4 separate regions of the Homo sapiens genome follow, and all the other regions are linked to region 2. Evidence: fine-mapped expression QTL. A gene starts in region 2. Each other region holds a variant in brackets. All regions are shown on one strand. Distances are between the middles of the regions.

Evidence for each region.
Region 1: its variant is fine-mapped to the expression of ZRANB1 in whole blood (TOPMed, PIP above 0.99).
Region 3: its variant is fine-mapped to the expression of ZRANB1 in lung (TOPMed, PIP 0.96).
Region 4: its variant is fine-mapped to the expression of ZRANB1 in whole blood (TOPMed, PIP above 0.99).

Annotation. Positions count from the first base shown.
Region 1 is chr10:124,914,365-124,919,516 of GRCh38, reverse strand. It overlaps a transcript of ZRANB1 not described here. Among named protein-coding and RNA genes, the nearest start is that of ZRANB1, 25 kb to the left of the region's middle. RefSeq lists silencers at 1,965-2,234, 2,295-2,654. The variant C/T (reference allele first, on the strand shown) is at 2,600.
Region 2 is chr10:124,939,124-124,944,275 of GRCh38, reverse strand. It overlaps ZRANB1 (zinc finger RANBP2-type containing 1), which reads right to left and starts at 2,153. Exons shown (of 9, transcript NM_017580.3): 1 at 969-2,153. The coding sequence starts at 1,782.
Region 3 is chr10:125,031,445-125,036,596 of GRCh38, reverse strand. The region is part of intron 3 of CTBP2 (C-terminal binding protein 2); the gene reads left to right. MIR4296 (microRNA 4296) reads left to right here and starts at 3,727; the gene lies at 3,727-3,814. The variant C/A (reference allele first, on the strand shown) is at 2,828.
Region 4 is chr10:124,985,728-124,990,866 of GRCh38, reverse strand. ZRANB1 (zinc finger RANBP2-type containing 1) reads right to left here. Exons shown (of 9, transcript NM_017580.3): 9 at 2,678-5,139. CTBP2 (C-terminal binding protein 2) reads left to right here. Exons shown (of 11, transcript NM_001329.4): 11 at 1,169-5,139. The coding sequence ends at 1,349. Among named protein-coding and RNA genes, the nearest start is that of MIR4296, 45 kb to the left of the region's middle. The variant A/G (reference allele first, on the strand shown) is at 2,599.

The sequences.
Region 1 (5,152 bases), 25 kb after region 2:
GGAGTGCAGTGGCTGGATCTCGGCTCGCAGCAACCTCCGCCTCCGGCGTTCAAGAGATTCTCTTGCCTCAGCCTCCCGAGTAGCTGGGATTACAGGCACACGCCACCATACCCGGCAAATTTTCTTGTATTTTTAGTAGAGACGGGGTTTCACCATGTTGGCCAGGCTGGTCTCGAACTACTGACCTCAGGCGATCCGCCCGCCTCAACCTCCCAAAGTGCTGGGATTATAGGCATGAGCCACGGGCCCGGCCAGTGGACTACTTTTGTAATTCACATTTAAAGTTTACATTTATTATAAAGCACATGGACAAGCTCTCACTGTATCAATTACACATATGAAGCAATTTGCCTCATATATTGTACAACTAGATCATGAGTTCCAAAACTATGTTAATCCTCAGACTTTAAATGTGACATCCATAACCCCTATCAGTGTACAGACATGGATCAAGGCCATGAGCTTAAAATATATTACCATGAATGAGTTCATCACACCCAAGCACATTTCAAGAGTAAATAAATGGGTGTCCCAATGCTCTGAGGCATTAATAAAAGGTATCGAAACAGCAACAGAAATAAAATCCCTCATGACACTCAGATAACATCCTCCTCAAAAGAGCAAAATGTCATTACTGTCCTACTATCTCGTAAACCCCCAACAGCCCAATAAAAACAATGTTATGAAATTTTAGTATAAAGAGACTGCCTATCTTTAGAGCCAAAAGTCAATAGGATTCTAAATTTTTTTAGAATTCCCTCATTTAATTCAAAATAATAACAAGGAGACAAGATCCAGCTTTATTTCTCCCATAGTTCAGATGACTTTCCCAAGAGCCTTGGCACAAGCCAAGATCAAAATTCCTTATGGTTTCCCCTGGCTTATGGTTTGTACACTGAGTCATCCATGTTTGACCAAAACAGGGGTACTGCTGGATGCTGCACAAGTGATAAAAGAAGTTAACTAAAACACACAGGTAAAGAAATAACTCATTATATAATAGGTCCCAGAGTTAAAGATTTCTCTCAGGCCAAGCGCGGTGGCACATGCCTATAATCCAGGACTTTGGAAGGCCGAGGCGGGCAGATCACCTGAGGTCAGAGGTGCGAGACCAGCCTGACCAACATGGAGAAACCCCATCTCTACTAAAAATACAAAATTAGCCGGGCGTGGTGGCGCATGCCTGTAGTCCCAACTACTCGGGAGGCAGAAGCAGGAGAATCGCTTGAACCTGGGAGGCGGAGGTTGCGGTGAGCCGAGATAGCGCCACTGCACTCCAGCCTGGGTAACAAGGGGGAAACTCCGTCTCAAATACAAAAAAAAATTATCTCCAATTGTGTTCCTAAAACGGTATTTTTGCACATTAGATTTATTAACATCATCATAAACACGGTGAAACCAAAATACTGGTAAGATGGGGCGGCGCTTAAATCGATAGTCTACGGAGTTACAGAAAAGGGTAATCAACTGACTGAAATACAATATCCTCAGCAAGAGAGTTTCAAAACACCAGTGTATCTCAAAGATAATGGGCCGGTTCAAACTTCCAGGCTTAACCTAAACTGCCTGTCCCTTGCGCTTAATGCCAGCATTCACTACAGTTCTTTTGTCTGTGAAATGACCCGCACCAAACCATAGCAGAGAAAAAACAGATCCTTGCACTGAACACTCGTTACTGCGAGCAGGAGGGGTAGACGAATCTTTCCACTAGCTCCAGCTCCTCCTCCCCACCCGCCTCGTCGTCCCCCACCTTTATTTTCCTACAAATGGCAACTGGAGGCCACCGCAGGAGGTGGAAAGCAAGCGGCCGAGGGACTGAAATACAAGTTTGGAGACACCAGAACCAACTTGTGGCGATGGACCCAAGTGTTTACGGCCTATTGCGGAGTGGGAGCGAAACCCCACTCGCCGATCCGTCTCCGGCAGGAAAAGAAGTTGTGGGGAAATCTGGCGGAAGAGCGGCGGTGGGACCGGCACCGCGTCCAGCCACGGGCGGCCGGCGGTCGGTAAACAAGCTGGGCGGACCCGCCCTCCCACAGCCCCCGGGCCGTCCCCGCAACCGGAGCGCCCAAGATGGAAGCGCCGACAGCGGCGGCCCGGGCCCCTGCCCTCCCCGCGCCTGCGACGCGGTCGCCCCTGGGGCGCCGGGCGGGCGGACAGCCCGTGAGGCCCGGCAACCTGGGCGCCGCCTGGGAGCGAGGGGCCCGGCAGGCCGCGGTGGGGCGCCCCCCGGGGCCCGGTTACCTGGCGGCGGCGGCTCCTCCTCCAGCTCCTGCTCCTCCTCCCCGTCCGACGGGCGCTTGGCGGCGGCGGCGGCGGCGGCGGCGGCGGCGGCAGCGGCGACTCCCCGCGCAGCCCGCGGCTACGAGTCGAGCCCGGCCCCTCTCCGCCTCCCTTCGCGCCGCCGCCCGCCCCGCTGCTGCCGCCTCCGCCCTCTCCCCTCAGTCAGGACATGGTCTCCGAGGGTCCGCGCGCGGCTCCCGGCTGCCGGAGGCCGGGGGAGAGGAGCAGAGAGGAGGCGCGGAGACTGGGGAGCCCCGGGGGGCGGGGGCACTGAGGTGTGGGAGGCGGCCGCGGGCGCTGCGGACCCTAATGGCGG[C/T]GGCCGAGGGACCCGGAGCCAAATAAACCCCGCGGCGAGCGGCACAACGTCAAGGCCAGACCCCGCCGCTCGCCGCCCTGTCATTGGCCCCGAGGCCGCCGCCGGCGCAGCCAATGAGCGACCGCCTCTTTCCGGGCTCAGGGGGCTGGTCGACACAGGGTGACGTCAGCCGGCGCGCGGCCCTGATTGTGAGTCGGCGGCGCGCGTCGGCCCAGTTCCCGTTCCTTTCCGCGGCCGACTGCGGTCTTGAGGGTGCTGGACTGCCGCGGGGTGCGTGGCGCTCGGGGGCGCCGGCTGACGGCGGCCTGGAGGGCGTCCTCGGCGGTGTCTGGACGCGCGCTTTGCCTCTTCTCTGCGACAGATGCGCCAGAGTTTTAAGTTAACCCCCAGGTCTCACGTATCCTAAGTGATCTACCTATAACCTAGATGCTGCTTTACTTTTTCTAAGGGACTTTGAAGCTCTTCGTAAAACACCAGGGAAGATAAAGCTCTAGGTGCTTTGTGATGGTTTGATTTTTTAAATTTATGTTTTGCAGTGTCCGATTTTTACCCCTGCCTTTGCTGGGGCTATCCATGTATATGGATGTATGTGTATATTTCTCTTTGCTTTCTGCATGGTACATGTGTGCGTACGTAGATGGACACGCGATGAAAAGTCATGGAGAGCTTGCCTCTTGCTCTCCTCCAGGACTCCCTGGCTCTAGTCTTGGGAAAATCCGACCTTCTTATGGCTGCCTTATCTGTAAATTAGAAATAAGCCTTTCCTAATAAGACTTATTTCTGTAAATAAGCCTTACCTATCTTCAGGCCCAGGATAAATTACAGCTATGGAAAAAAATACTGCTTAGGAGAATCACCTGGAACCAAGTTCTAAACAGAATATGTGTATTTCTTTCTTTTTGTACTATAAAAGTAACCAAATAGCCAGAATAAGCCAGCCATTTGTTAAAACCCCATGAGTATGGGAAATTTTTCTAGCTAGAGAGCTTTGTTTTTTCCCAGTGGGACTTTACCTTGTAGTTTTCATGCTTAAAATTTTGTGAGGAGAAGAAAGAATTTGAAAGATCATAAAAGACAGCAACTCTTTAAAAGCTGTAAATTTAAAAGTTATCTATTAGAGAAAACCTATCACTACTGCCAAAGGGCGTTTAGCAGTTGGATACCTCAGGTTCAACAGGAGGACCATTATTCAGAGTTTAATCAGATTTTTAAAATTTGAATGGGACTTCATTTAGTAAAACTATTCATGGTGTTCTGGCTTTCTCTTTGCATAAATGTGGTCAAGAATGTGTGTTTAGCTTCACTATGGCCAGCAAACAATGATGCTGTATCTTATAGATTCCCCTCTCCAACAACATATTTCGCTGGCATATTTTATTCTCATAGCCATTCCTATAGTGTAGAGATTTTCGACAATCCTTGTCTGCCCAGAGCAACATTACTTATTCAATAAATTGAGTTTAAATTGCAAGTCTTTTGCCTGCAAAACTTAACATACATTCTCATATATATTTATATATATGAGCTATATATATAATTAACGTATAATGAACACAATTGTAGATCAGATCAAACACCATGTTACCATGTTAAGAACAATAGTTAGGCCAACATTTCAACTTTGAAAATATTTTCTTTAAGAGCTCCTGAATTCCTCCAGCTTCCCCTTCCTGAATTCAGACTGCAGAGCCTCTCAGTTACAAACTAACAGGAATCACAGAATTAGGTGTTTTTGTTTCGCTTGAGTTGTAGTTTATTTTGGGAAGGAAATGGGATATCACTGGGATAAAGTTTATTATCTCCTTCCTCAGTTGAGTAAATAGTGAATATCACGTACCAATGAATAAGAAGCCTACAAAGGTAAGACACATCTTAGTGAGGAAACTACAGCATAGAGAAAAGAGTAAGACAGAAATAACCGTAATTATGGCCAGGCACGGTGGCTCACCCTTGTAATCCCAGCAGTTTGGAAGGCCGAGGTGGGTGGATCACCTGAAGTCAGGAGTTTGAGACCAGCCTGACCAACATGGTGAAACCCCATCTCTACTAAATACAAAAAATTAGCCGGTCGTCGTGGTGCATGCCTGTAGTCCCAACTAGTTGGGAGACTGAGGCAGGAGAACCTCTTGAACTCCGGAGGCGGAGGTTGCAGTGAGCTGAGATTGTGTCATTGCACTCCAGCCTGAGCAACAAGAGCAAAACTCCGTCTCAAAAAAAAAAAAAAAAGAAAGAAAGAAAGACCTGTAATTATAGGTCGGGCACGGTGGCTCACGCCTATTATCCCAACAGTTTGGGAGGCCGAGGCAGGCAGATCACCTGAGGTCGTCGGGAGTTTGAGACCAGCCTGGCCGACATGGTGAAACCTTGTCTCTACTAAAAATACAAAAATTAGCCGGACATGGTGGCACGTGCCTTTAACCCCAGCTACGTGGGAGGCTGAGGCACGAGAATCATTTGAACCCAGGAGGCAGAGGTTGCAGTGAGCCGAGACCGTGTCATTGCACTCCAGCCTAGGCAACAGAGTGAGACTCTGTCTAAAAAAACAAACAAACA
Region 2 (5,152 bases):
AAAATTTCCCTCATAAGACCAAATGTCAAAGCAAGCAGCCCATCCAAATAATTTAATAAAAATCAAACATCTAATCTACTCAAAAAAAAAATACTGAAGACTCAAGTCACTGCTTTTGTGAATTACATCACAATTAACTCACAAGGTCAAGAACTGAAGAAAAACTCTGCTCTCCTATGTCTCTGTCCTTTAACAGCATTTCCTGAGGAAAATGTCACAATACATATGAACCATAACTTGAAGTATGGAATCAGCTGGCTACATGTAATCAGTTCCATAAAGTTTGCAAACATTTACTACATGACATTCATGTTAAATTAACACCAGTATTTTCAAGGTCAATATGTTTGTTCAACTTCTTGGAGTCACACATTTTTGTGGTATTTTTAACATCTGACTAAAGCTTCTATCATCACAAGATGCTCACACTGTTTACAAATACTTGGAAACAGCAGCTGGTGTTCCTCAGTTACATCTTGTTACAATAAACAGAGTAGCAGTTTTAAAGTCCAGGTATATATTTTACTGCTGATGTGTAAAAACTTTGCTTTAACTTAAACGTTTCCACTGCCCCCAGTAATGGAGAGACATGAACACAATTAATTGTGGGCAATTTAGTACAAAGTTACGACAAGATCACAAATACACAAATTTTTATGTATGCATACTTGAAAGTACAGCTATCGTGCTGAATGAATCAAATGCTAGTGACTTTGCGCATATATATATACACACACACACACACACTCACATTTTTGCATGTGCGTGGAGACACAGTCTCACTATGTTACCCAAGCTGGAGTGCAAGTGCTATTCACAGACCGATCATGGCATACTACAGCCTCAAACTCCTGGTTTCAAGCAAGTGGCTAAGACCACAAACGTGTGTCAGCGCACCCAGCTCTTTTCATATCATTTTTACTACCTTTTCCCATCCCACGCAAAAAATGCAGAATACAGAAACTTACCCACACAAGCATTGAGGAAGAGCCAATCAGTCTTTTTCATCCTGTTTTTAATTTGCTTTAGTTTTTTAAAGTCTACTTCAAGTTCCTCCTTGCTTCCCACAGCACCAGCCAATTCAATCCTCTGAAAATCCATTTTCACTTCAGAGTCCCGCTTCGTAGCAGGAGGTGATCTCCTTTGGCTATTACCACTACTGCAACTTCCCCTCCATCGAGCTCTGTCTTGCTCATTTATTATTGAAGAAGCCTCTTCAGTCTCTGCCAATTCTATTGCTTCAATGTTATTAGGTCTGGGATGATCACAAACAACACATCTTTTAGCCTTGGCCCAGTTTTCATATGTGCAAACAGAGCAAGTCCAGTGCTGTGTCCTAGTGTTCAGTTTATTTCTATCATTGTATTCCTCACAAGGATCAACAGAAAAAGCAACTGGTCTTGAGCCAGATCCTGAGGACTGAGGAGATTCTGTAGGACTCCTGGTCCTACGTTGGGATAAGCACTGGGTACATCTGATTGCTCTTGGCCAGTTCAAATATGTACACATGTGGCATGACCACTTATTTGCATTTTCCATGCTATACGAAGATTTCACCCTTGGTCTTGCACTAGAGTCTGGACATATCAAAGGACTACTTCCTCCTTCGGTGCTGGAAGGATCCCAATCTCTACCAACATCACTTGAACCACTTTTAAATGGATCTTCTGTAATAATTGTTCCACTAGGTCTTTGGGCACGACACATAGTACACTTGATTGCAGATGGCCAGTTTTCATACGTACAATATTCACAAGCCCACTTAATTCCACGTTCTGACATTGTGCACTTCTTGAAGTGAGCTGTGTCAGGCAGGAAGCTATAAATAATTAGGACATGGTTATTAAAATAACTACATTCCACCTCCAAAAATACGCTGCCCAAAAAGCAAGTCCTTCAACCTACAAAATATAAATTTCTCAAAAGATGCATGCAACATTTCGACATTGAATTATCCTAATTTTCTTTTTTAATTTCCATAGAAACACTGGAGATAAATTCTCAAAGAAAAAATCTTAGACCCTGGGATTTAATAAAACTGAACTTTGGAATGCAAAAGAGATAGGCAGGAGATATAACGAGGTTTGATCTAAGAAGGATGAGATTAACGGGAAGCCACTAATAGAAATGTTTAATTTCAGGGAGGCCATCACATCAATTTAGAAAAGTAACCAATAGTTTAAAGAGACAAAGGTAGAGGAAACAACACAAACTAAAAAATAGCTTAAACACATAACCATTCTCAAATTATGAACACAGATTATGATTCATGAATTCAGAAGATCAAGCAACGTCTATTTTATCATTCTCGCTAAGGGAGAAAAGCAACTTAAAATGCTAATTATCCACTGTTCTTAATTAGCACAGGTAGTAAAGAAACATGTTGAGAAGTAATGGCTACAATTAACAAAGTAACATTATGAAATAGGTAGTTCCTTGATAATCTGTAGCCTCAAAATCTAGTTCTATCTGGAGTAAAAAAAAGAAGACTGTACTGGGGAAAATTAAATCTGTGGAAGGTCACTGAAATAACCAGTAGCATAATCATTCCAATATAATTGTGAATGTTCATAATTAAAATATTTTAAATTTTGAATATTTAAAATATACTCAAAATCTAATTCATGGCCGGGGGCAGTAGCTCAAGCCTATAATCCCAGCATTTTGGGAGGCTGAGGCGGGTAGATCACAAGGTCAGGAGTTCAAGACCAGCCTGGCCAAGATGGTAAAGCCCCGTCTCTATAAAAATACAAAAATTAGCCGTGCATGGTGGTAGGTGCCTGTAATCCCAGCTACTCAGGAGGCTGAGGCAGAGAACTGCTTGAACCCGGCAGGCAGAGGTTGCAGTGAGCTAAGATCGCACCACTGCACTCTAGCCTGGGTGACAGAGTGAGACTCCATCCCCTGCCCCCCAAAAAATCCAATTCATATTTAAAAGATATTCACACTACTTAAAAGATTTCTAGGATTCAACAATGGGCTAACACTACACTATAATGAAGAAAGACTTCATAATTTAATGGCAACTAATTCATAAATGAAGCAACTTACATAACAAATTTAATTTTTTTTTTTTTAATGGCTTGAATTTAGACACTGGCCACTTTTCCTAAATACTTTTATCAACTCAGTATCATCCCAACACCTATTTTTCACCCGGAAAGAGAAAGAAATCCTAGGCAGAGTATAGAAGCTTTGCTCTCTCTTTCTCAGGGATTTTTCCTGAACCTAGAGGGTTAAATCTTTTGTTTGTTTGTTTTTTTGTTGTTGTTGTTTTCATTTTTGTTTTTTTGAGATGGAGTCTTGCTATGTTTTGCCCAGGCTGGAATGCAGTGGAGTGGTGCAATCTAAGCTCACTGCAACCTCCACCTCCCAGGTTCAAGCGATTCTCCTGCCTCAGCCTCCCAAGTAGCCGAGATTACAGGTGCATGCCACCATGCCCGGCTAATTTTTGTATTTTTAGTAGAGATAGGGTTTCAGCATCTTGGCCGGGCTTCTCTTGATGAACTCCTGACCTCGTGATCCACCCACCTCGACCTCCCAAAGTGCTAGGATTACAGGCATGAACCACCACGCCTGGCCTAAATCTTTCACTTTTGAAGTATACTGTATTATGTTCCTGCCTGCCAAGTCCATACACCATTTATAGTGTGAACTCTGCTAAGAAGAAAAAAAAATCACTATAAGAAAGTATACTACTTAATAGCTAAAATAAAAACCACACTTACTAAGATTTTAGTTCCCACGCTATAACCTCCACCTTGCACATGATTAGAATAAAAGTACGGTTTGCAAATCAGATCAAAGACAAGATTCCGTCTTCATGCTGGCTCAGAATTCTGACTTCCTCAGGAGATACTGCAAAACGTGATAAGTGGTTCTGTCTGACTGAATAGCTATTCCTGTAAAGGAGACCAAAACTGAATTTCACTTGAAGCCTGCTACTTTAGCTAAAAGATTTTTAAGGCTTTATTTTTATCAATTCTCTATTTTAACCCTACTCACTTATTTTAACAATGGACAACTATATTTAGAATTTTAATTTAACAAAACAATAAAATTGGCTAATCAACTGGGCTGGTCAGCCAAATTAAACATGGATGAGACATTTTTCTATATAACCTTAACCCTGTGCTGTGTACACAGTTCTAATATTACTATTAATTTGGCAGTGCTAAGTTAATTCCTACCTGTATTACTCTATTACTAAAAGGGAAAAGATGATAAAATCCAAAAAAGTAGAAAAAGCAAAATAATTGCTTATATTTAGCTATGAAACCACCTTCAGCAACTGCATTTTTTTCCCTGATCCAAGTAATATAAAATTATCTTGTTTAAATTTTTAAATTTAGTTTGTATAATGATTACTTACAAACTGATAGCAGCCCAAAAATGTGTGGAAGAGCAGAGAACTATAATGATATAACCATCCAGAAAGTAGACAATACAGATTTAATGGCAATTTTCATACTCTTTAGGCAGATTCTTTTAGTTTCTCGGGAATGAAATATAAGTTACTTGCTCATGCTACTGGAAATTAAAATGAGCATGTAGAAACTTATTAACAAGATAAATGCCATAATGAACATATATCCAGGGCTACTCTAAGTAATTTCAATATATCTTTTAAAATATTCACATTCAAAATCCATACTTGTTTTGATAAGTCTTACTATGTTTGTAGGTGCAACTAAACAGCCCGTAACCTTATGTTATCTTAGCTAATCTTCATGTAACTAATATGCTGGCACAATATATTTAAATGTCCAGGCTGATTTAAAAAACAAACAAAAAACTGTCATAAAAAATAATCACTGTCATAAATGCCTGGTAAAATAATGGACAGACAGCTGCCTAATTAGCCCACCAACCTCTGAAAATCCAGGTAACTAAGCAATACCAAAACCAAGCTCAAGAGTTTTGAGATGTGCCTTATATTAGATAATAAGCACAGTGGCTCAAGTCTTTAATCCCAGCACTTTGGGAGAATGAGGTGGGAGGATCACTTGAGTCCAGGATTCAAGACCAACCTGGGCAACACAGCAAGACTCCATCACTACAAAAAAGGAAAAAAAAAAAAAAACACGATTTTTGTTGTTGTTGAGACAGTCTCACTTTGTCACCCAAGCTGGAGTGCAGTGGCACAATCTTG
Region 3 (5,152 bases), 92 kb before region 2:
AGAGAGCCTGTCAAACTGTTTTTTTCTCCCTCCCCACTGCCTACACCTGACACAGGGACTTCTGCGTCCCTTAGGTTTGTTTTTTTTTTCTTTCTAAATGATTAAAAGCATGAAGCTGCCATGTTCTGCTGTGCTTACCCGGTCTGCTCCCAGGCTTGTAGGAACTTTGTCTTCCTGCTCTTGGTGTCTGGATACACCAGCTCCTTAAAATTCGTCCCCTCCCGCCTGCTACACAATGCCAACATCAAGCCCTGGTCGTGGGTCCCTAGGCTGGAATCAGGCAGGCCTCTCCAGGGTCCCACTCCAGGTACTCCGCTGGAATCTGAGCATCACCCCTGCACAGATACTTGTACAACCTTTCCCTGTTTTCTAAGGCCTGTCCAGCCCCTTCCTCTTTGAAACTTTTCAAAGCAAGAAAAAGTGGCATGGAGCTTGATCCTTCTGTGTGCCCAGAATCTGCCGTGGGGATTCACTCCGCCAGGCTGTGTCTCTACTCGGAGAGCAGGACACAGACAGTCTTTGGGACTCCAGCCAAATGAGCTGGAATAATGGTCTTTCTAGCCAATGTAAAAGCCACATTTTAATTTTTTTAATGTAACTCTTTGAGTTTGCTATTTATAATTGTTCCTTTTTTTTCTGATGCCTGCTATCAAGCAATCCTATAATACCATGTAAGAATTATTACGAAGGAGCCCTCTCGTAACACAGGCTGATCAGAACAAGATTGTGGTCTCCTCATTCTCAAGTATAATGGAGATCTTCCTATCTGTTTAGTCTGCTGACATAATTGACATTGTGAACTGCACCAGCTGGAGGGTTTTAGTACCTACTTTATCGCATTATGCCAGAGCTCCTTTGGTTTGCCCCAAACATCTATTGGTTGGAAATGAGGGCTAGCTAACAATCACTCAGCATTGCAAAGGGAACCCAGAAGAGCATCTTGCAGAGCCCTGGGTTTGTAGAACTTAATAAACCACAATGGCTGTTGTTGGTGGTAACTTTTTGTTAGAGCTGCTTCTTGTGGATTATGATAGAATCAGTCTGTAAACACTGCTCCCCTTTCCTGCGGCTGTTGCGATTGCAACTTGAAAAAAGTATGTGTTTCGTTTTACTGCGTTTTGTTCGAATGTGTTAGAGACGTGGAAAATGGTCCCCCGAGGATGGTATCAGCTGAGTTGTGAGTAGTCCCCTTGTAACATGACTCAGGGAGGGTGCTTCTCCATTTCCTCTGCAAAAATAAAAGGGACCTCCTCTTAAATAAACAAGCTCATGAAACATTCCGCACCTCTGGAATGTTCTCACGACCACAGAGGATAAAAGGAATGAGAACGTTGAGCTGGTTGGGTGGATATGAGGAAAAAGGAGACAAGCTGGTTTCTGTGAAACACATAGATAGTTAGAAAGTCTGGGAATCTCATTCTGCATCACCTTTGTCGCAGGAGGATGAGAAGTCTGAGAAGATGCTGCCGGGGATGAGGTGGAAGGGAGTTTCCCCAGTGGGTCTCTTCTGTGTCGCGGGCTCTTCTGCTCTTCTCAGTGGGTTGAACTTGCCATGGTGGAAGCACATGTCAGTGGGATGTACCCCCAAGAAAGGTCATCCATACGTATAAGGAACAAAGACAGGCGCCTCCAGGGTCAGCAAGGTTACCCAAGTGGTCTAGAAGTCCCTCTGGCTCTTTCCTTCTTCCAGCAGCCTCCTTGCCTGGCAAACACCCATCAGAGCCTCCAGGATGAGAGAGTGACTTTCTCTTTCCCCGAGGAAAGAACATAATCCACAGAGTGTTGACAAATGGTTTTGTTTGGTATTTAAGATTTATTTGTTTTTGTTCTGAGTAGCTGTTTTCTTTTCACCTATCTTTGTACAGATGCATTATAAAATCAGGACTTGTTTTGTTTTTGTTTGTTTTTTTAAAGCACTTTGAGCGCTTCGTAAAGAAACAGAGTTGAAGCCTGCCTATAGGTAGTCCACAAACAGTTCTAATAAATAACTTTAAATAGCCCCAAAATGTGGATTTTAAAAATGGGATTCATAATGTTGCTATACATTATAATTATATGTTGGGATCAGGCAATTATGCACATTTCCAGCAATTATGTGATTAGCTGTAATTACATTAGCTATGTAAATATACAATAGTCAACTAGACATGCCTTAAAACCCCAAAGCACAAATGAACATACCCAAACAATCTTATGCAAAGGTAAAGGTTCAGGAAACAGCCAAGGCAAAGCTTCACAGACAAAAGTGCGGTTCTTTGCAAGGGGTAAAGTTTCATGTTTTGCCTTATCTGTCCCCGGCTTTAAGAGAAACTCAGAGTGGGGGACCCCTCCCCAGGGAACCCCTCACCCCACCTGTTCCTCCACCGACTCTGGGGATGGGGTTCATAGACTGCCCTCCCGTTCTGCAGCTGTGAATCAGGTTCGGTGTTTTATTTCTCTGTTGTTACTCATTTCTCAAGCACAAACATAAGCGTCTCTTTGCACCGGTCAGTTTGGTGATGGGCGGATGTCTTCATACTCACCACTTTTTTCTAATAGCAACATGTTAAGGCCACTTTGCTTTTATTTGGGGGGCCAGGGATGTGTAGTGCAACTGGAGTCTGTGGCTGGGGTTTGGGGGTTCATCACCGTCTTCTAGTTTGGTTCTGCAGCTGCGGTTTTCAGCTCCTGCCCCTACCACAGTGAATCGCGCTGTTTCCCACCGCCTGGTTGGTGGTGCCCTGTCTCCATCGATGATTGAGTTGAAACCTCCCACAGTGTGGCCCGGAGCCCCTGGGCCCAGCTGCCCAGGGCTTTACTCTCAGTGCCTGTCCTCTTGGTCCCGGCA[C/A]CTTTGGGAAAAGAGCATCTCTAGTTTCAGGCCAAGTCAGTGCCTTGAGGGGAGCAGTGCTTGGGGTGGGCAGGGGGAAGGAGTGCCGCGGGGGGAACAGTGCATCCGTAGTCTCCGTGTTTGGAGGAGGCCCCAGGGTAGCCAGACAGCAGCAGACAGCAGCCCGCACGAATGCGGAGAACCTTCTGCGCGCTTCACACAGCTCAACCTAATTGACAGGTATTTGGGGTGACTGTGAACCAGAACCCCAAGATACATTTTGCTGCCGGCTTCTTGCCCTCTCTCCTTTTCCAGAACGTACAGTGTTAAAGCTGTGAAATGAGACTCCTCTCTGATTGGTTTCTACCACTTGGCTCGCTTGCTACTAAAGCTCAGGCACCTTGGCGTGCGCGCTCGAGGGCGTTCCTCTGTCTCTGTCTCATCTCCATCTACAGAGTGACCTCACGTGCCTTTCTCAGCCCTTCCACATCCAGCAGGAGCCTGGCTGAGCACCCCAGCTGGGCTGTGAAGATGCCGAGAGGGGAGAGCATTCTGGGTGTCCAGCGCTGGGGCACAGTGGGATCCCACACTCCCTGTCCCTCCAGCCTGTTTCTCATCACCTGAGGGTTTTGTTTTCCGTGTTCCGGTTGAAGAGATGTCTGTGCCAGGAGGGTTCCTCCCTTCCCATTTGCAACCTGGGATGGGTGACGCAGATTTATCCGAGACTTGGGAGTGAGGCTGAGAGTCAGTTCTTTCGTATCCTAAGAAAGGCTGACCGTCCCATCAAGGCCCGTGTGCTGAAACTGTCCGTGTGCAGGCTCAGGTGGAGCAGGTCTCTGTCAGGCAGCCATTTGTATTTGGGCGGTGGGTGCTTTGCCTAGCTTAGTGCCTACCATGCCCAGGCTTGCAAATGGGGCTGTTTGGGCTTTGATGTGGGCTCAGGCTCAGAGGGCTGAAGTGGTTGTGGGGAGGGGCTTCTGGGGACTGTGTCCATGTCTCTGTCGTTTTTCCCCATCACACCGTACACTCCCTTGAGGCCAGCCGTCCATCACCATTGAGTCATAGTCGACAGTTTGATTTACAGCCCGGGTGTCAAACAAAATGAAAAGCACGTGATGAATGGAGGGAGCACGTGCTGTGGAGGGAGGGGTGCGCTCCGCTCCGCAGGTCAGGGGCTAAGCGGCCATGCCTTGGCCTGTCTCTACAGGCACATGCATGCCCTGGACTATTTTTGGGGTGCCTTTCTCATCTTGAGGAGTGGCAGGTTTTTTGGACTAAGGACAAAGTGACAGAATTGGACTGAGAAAGGTTCATGGGGGAGGGCTCGCTGAGCCAGCCCTGATTAGGAGCATTGCTCACAAAACCAGAGGAAGGACGGCATCCTGGGACCTTCTGATCGCAGGACAGCCGAGGAGACCTCAAACAGTGGAGTGTGATGGGGCGGGTCACCATGGAGGTGAGGTGGAGACTTTGGGAATCTGCAGGAAAAGCTGCTAAAGAGCAGAAGGGGTGGTGTTCATTGAGCACCTACTGTGCGGAGCGTCTTGTGCCGGGTGCTGTCCAGAGCTGAGCACAGCCTCTTGAGGTTGAGTGTGTTCCATTGCTAGAAATGGGAATCCTGACATGGTCCAAGGTGAGGCCTGTCCTGCATCCCAGCTGGGGTCCCGTTGCACACTTTGGCTCCACCAACACTTTCAAAATGGGCAGTGCAAGAGAATGGGCTTGTTTTTTTTTTTCTTTTGAAACCCCATAATGAGTGGTCTAATTTTCATAATGCAGTTCCCAGGAAGCTTTACAATATAGTTAAGAAATTGAGTCAGAAGCAATGTGCAGGCCTTTGTTTTCACTTACCATGGCTAAATACTGAGAGACATGAGGACTGGGGCTTCTTAGGATGCAGCTAATCTGAAAAAGGCTGGGTTGGTTCAGACACTCGACGTCACTCTCCTGACTTCCTTTGGCGCGTTGCGTGGGTGCCCAAGCCTCCGCGCTCCAGGCCCAGAAATTGGTGAGAGCACTCAGTGTGCAAGCAAGGGTGCACGGTGCACTCAGCCCCTTTGATACCTGAAACGATGTCTGGGCAGTTTTGCTAATTGTTGCTGTGTGCTTGCGTGATTTAGACGAAGGCTGCTTTAAAACCCAGCCAGACTTTGTGTTTGCTATGTAACCAGTGCATTTGGTGTGGCCTCCCACCCTTTGCGTTAGATTAGCCAACTTGGCTACTTTGGGTTGAGGACGTTCGGGGGCAGGGGGTAGGGGGTTGATGAGAGGAAAGACTTTTTTTTTTTTTTTTTTTTTTTTTGAAATGGAGTCTTGCTCTGTTGCCCAGGCTGGAATGCAATGGTT
Region 4 (5,139 bases), 47 kb before region 2:
TGACGGCCAGGCAGCAGACCGTCAGCTTCTTCCCACATCCTCATATGGCAGAGAGAGGGCCAGAGCACTGACTAGACTCCCTTGTGTAAAGGCACTGATCCCATTCATGACCCAGTCATTTCCTCACCCAGTCACTTCCCAAGGGCTCTACCTCTTAAGGTCATCACCTTTAAGGTGTGGGATTTGAACTGGAATTAGGGGGATGGAGGGAGACAAACATTGAGTCCCTAAGGGTCCATTGTACTCTGTTGGGAAATCATTTTATCAGTCAGAAGTAACTGGTGAACAGTTGGGAGTCCATTTTGTACAAAGTGGGTTTTTTTAAATAGTATAATGTATCCACATTCATAAATAGTATGGGCTAATATCTTCTTATCTAAAAGCTACAAAATTAGTGGCCCCGTGTTTGGATTGGACTAGTTTTGTTTTTATGAATTAGTTGCCAGTGTTTTATATAAAAATTGAGACTTCTCCTTGCTTTGGGGATAGGGAAGATAAACTATCCCATAAAAATCGTTAGCCAGGGCCGGGCATGGTGGCTCACGCCTGTAATCCCAGCACTTTGGGAGGCTGAGGCGGGCGGATCACGAGGTCGGGAGATTGAGACCATCCTGGCCAACGTGGTGAAACCCCGTCTCTACTAAAAATATAAAAATTAGCCGGGTGTGGTAGCGCACACCTGTAGTCCCAGCTACTTGGGAGGCTGAGGCAGGAGAATCACTTTAACCCAGGAGGCAGAGGTTGCAGTGGGCTGAGATTGCTCACGCCACTGCACTCCAGACTGGCGACAGAGTGAGACTCCATCTCAAAAAAAAAAAAAAAAACTATTAGCCAGGCCTGGTGTCTCTCGCCTGTACTCCCAGGACTCTGGGAGGCCTATGATGGGGCATCACTTGAGCTCAAGAGTTTGAGACCAGCCTGGGCAGTCTGGCAAAACCGCATCTCTACAAAAAAATACAAAAACTAGCTAGGCGTGGTGGCTCATGCCTGTGGTCGCCACTACTTGGGTGTCTGAGGTGGGATCACTTGAGCCCAGAAGGTCGGTCAAGGTGAGCCATGTTCATGTCACTGGGCTCCTGTCTCTTATGAAAAGGCCAGAAGTAGAAGAGCCAAGAGCTTGGCAACTCTGCCCTGAACTTACAAGGCCCTATTTCTGTGTGTTCCTTAGATATCCGCCAGGCATCGTGGGTGTGGCTCCAGGAGGACTTCCTGCAGCCATGGAAGGGATCATCCCTGGAGGCATCCCAGTGACTCACAACCTCCCGACAGTGGCACATCCTTCCCAAGCGCCCTCTCCCAACCAGCCCACAAAACACGGGGACAATCGAGAGCACCCCAACGAGCAATAGCAGAGAATGCCAGAAGGTAATCACTCAGATACACTTGGGACCAAGAGACAGTGAAAAATAGATGAACTAAGAGAAAAAGAATCGGATGGTCTTTGTAACTGATTCTGGACATATGCATCATTGATGTTGCAGTGTTGAAACTACAAGAGCTAGAAAACTGAAGATGTCGTCTGCTTACGGAAGCGCTGAAAGACTAGGATGTGATTTATTAACGACCAACTTCTGTTATTGTGTGTTAAGTTTTTCATCTGTGCATCAAATCACAAAAAGAATAAATAGAGCTTTTTCCTTTATCAGTCCCTTGGGCACAGCAGGTCCTGAACACCCTGCTCTACAATGTTGCATCAAGAGTTCAAACAACAAAATAAAAAATATTAAGAGGAAATCCCCATCCTGTGACTTGAGTCCCTTAAGTCTACAGGGGCTGGTGACCTCTTTTTGCTAATAGGAAAATCACATTACTACAAAATGGGGAGAAAACTGTTTGCCTGTGGTAGACACCTGCACGCATAGGATTGAAGACAGTACAGGCTGCTGTACAGAGAAGCGCCTCTCACATCTGAACTGCATACTGAGCGGGCAAGTCGGTTGTAAGTTCAGTAAAACCCTCTGATGATGCAAAAAAAAAAAAAAAAGTATTAAGTTTCACAAGCTGTTTGTACTCAAATATATTTTCTCAGTTTCAGATCCTCTGCTATTTTATTGAGTGGAAAGTCTTGAGCTAAAAGGGTTCAAGAAGAATAATGTTGCATTTCCTTATGTCTCAGGAAACACTTTTTATGGTAACTTGTCAGATTGTCTATGAACAAACCCACTTTTTTAGACATTGATAAAGTCTTCTTTTCTTCACGTGATATTTTATACAAGAACACTTCAGATGTATTAGATGTGACTGATTTTAACAAATCCTATTAGATTTGTATCAACTAGTTACATGTTCTATTCATAGTCTTTTGTGAATCATTGCCTTTTTGTTTAAAAAGATGGCCTATTTTGAGCCTTTGTATAGGTACATTCCTGTTTTTGTGACAAAAGAAAAACTTTAAAATTGTCCCAAACAGAAAAATAATGGCTATCAGAAGTATGTTTTGTTTTAGTGTGAGTTACCGTTACTGTATTTGTTTATTGTAAAGGTGGACATTTAGCGTTCAGTGCAGTTTTCAATAAAAAGTAATTAAAATTTGTTAAGTTCTGAAATTCAAGTACATCTCACTAATGTAAATGTTCTCTACTTGAGATGTTTAAGGCA[A/G]TTGCATTGTCAATTAGCCAATTTCCAGCTCTTGTTACTACAGGGTTCCATAACCAGACTCAAGACCGCTGACAATTAATTACCTGTGATAACAAAAAGTTTAATTGAAAAATCAAAACCTCACACAAGTCCATCATTATCACGTCATGCCATCCTTAAGATGCAATGGTGGGTTAGTGCTAAATCAATTCAAAAAAAAACAAAGTTGCTCAACTTTTAGAGTTCTGACTTTAATCTACCCCAAAGCAAAATGACCTGGACCTGGTTCAAGGGAGGGAAGTGAACCTTGAAACTGTTTTGCCAATAACCTAACAAACAAAATGATATTTACAAAGAAGTGTTGCAAATAGTCCCATGAGTTAAGAGCTTGATTTAATGGATCTTCTTTTTAAATAGAATTAAACCTTTATACTAAAAGTATTTGCAAGTGTCAATTAAGTCCAACAATTCCAGGTATGAAACTCCCTCTGAGCTCTTCCTTATACTTCCCTTCCCAATTAAAACAAAACAAGAAAATCATGGTGTCTTAAAGCCTTTGGCTTGCCTGGCCTTGTCTGCTCACTCATTTTAAGGTGGTGGCCCCATCCCAACTCTACCATAAAAGTGTCTATTAACACAAGCTCACATGGAGAGAGACGGCGCTCATAGTTACTGACCTATTACCCCAGGGAACAAAAAGGTAGTTTAACGTCTTCGTAACCACTCATCAAAGAGGCAATGAAATATGCGTGAAAAGGAGGCCAAGCGCACACAGAATATCTTACCTTCACGAATATGTGAAGAAGTCTGGGACACGATGAACCTAAGAGTCAAAAACATAAAAAGGCAGGTCTGAATCCATGGTCCACCTGGGTTTTAATTATTAGATCTTGGTCGCCCAAACAAAAATTTATATATATATATATAAATTTGACCCCAAGGAAGAACAAGTCAAAACAAAATGCCACGCTCTGTTTGCTCTAGAAAAAGAACCATCAAGTCCACAGAGTGCAGGTATGACTTACTCTCCAGAGTCAGTCATTAATGTCTGTCACCTAGCCACGTATAATCATCTTTGAAAAAGGACTATATTCTATCTTGGGACAATAATTATGGCTGTTTTAATAGTTCAAGAGCATAATATAGCATTGATTTACCAAAATTTTTGGCCTTTAACAGCCAGTCTATGAAAACCATTTAGAGCCCCATTCCTGTCTGTAGCCTAGGAAATGGAACCATCTTTAATTCTTTCCCACAGGGAAGAATGCTGCACCTATCACACTATGTGGTCAGGGTCACTGATTGATAATAAATAAATAAATAATAGAGCGCTCAGGGGAAACAACACTCACCAGACCACAACACACAGTAGAAGCTAAGTGCTGAGCGTGTACTCTGGACAACGCTGGCTGCAATGCAGACTGCAATGGCTACATGCTTTTCCCTCTAACAATTCTCTTTGGCTTTTTCAATTGGGAGGGCAGATTTTGCTTAACAGGCAACTAGAACAGGATCTCTGCCCACTAAAAAATTATCCCTATACATAGAGAAATTACTACAGATGCTAAGTAGTCAGAATGCTAACATTTTCTACAAACTTGATTACTTATTGGCCAAAATGAAAGCAAACAGCCAATTTTTAACAACACATTCACCACTTGAAACAAACAGCAGCATTTACATTATATCAAAGATTCATTTCTACAGAATCGTACTAAAAAATCATTTTTCCTGCAAGATTTAGCATGCAGCAAAAAATGATCTTTTCATCCTGGGAACACCTTTTTACTGAGTTTTCGGGGGGAAAGAACTAAAGACATGACAGTTTTGTGGGTATTTTTCTATTTTTAGTATTCTGGCAGCAAATTTGAGGTTGTACACATTTCATTATCAACTAAACAAAACAAGAAGCAAGCAAATACTTTAAGGTTTTCACAGCCTTTTTCATCACAGGGAAGGAAAAAACTGTGTGTGTGTGTGTGTGTGTGTGTGTGTGTGCGCGCGCGCGCGTGCGTGTGTCGTCTTTCCAAATTCCTGGCCACATCAATAGTCTAGAAAGTGCTTATCAGGACACCAAATATTTCTGTGTTCCTGAGATAGGTCTGAAATTTTTACCCAGTATTGAATGTATACCTGAAGTGGTCAAATAATACTTCTTATAAAAAAGTTTTTCTACCTAAGATTATAGTTTTAACTTTAAATTAAAGAATGGCCACAATTAACCAACATGCAAAAATTCTCAGACTAAACACTGAGAAATTCTTCATACAATGCATTTGCCACCTTATTGCATTTTTAAAATCTTTATTCTGTAGTGAATTGGTATTCCCAATCTGCCTAAGCAAAGGCATGCCCTTCTAACAAGATTTGCTTAGAGCAGAGGTGATAGAAGGAAGAATCCGAAGACCCTCTGGCATGGCAATCTGGGAGCAGCACATTGTTGATGGAGTCCAAGTGAGCACATTTCACACAATTCATTTAGTGACAAGTGGGCTTGCTCCCTTTTCATCCAGGAAAAAAACTACTCACAGACCACTGCCCAGAATCTGGAATAAGAACCCT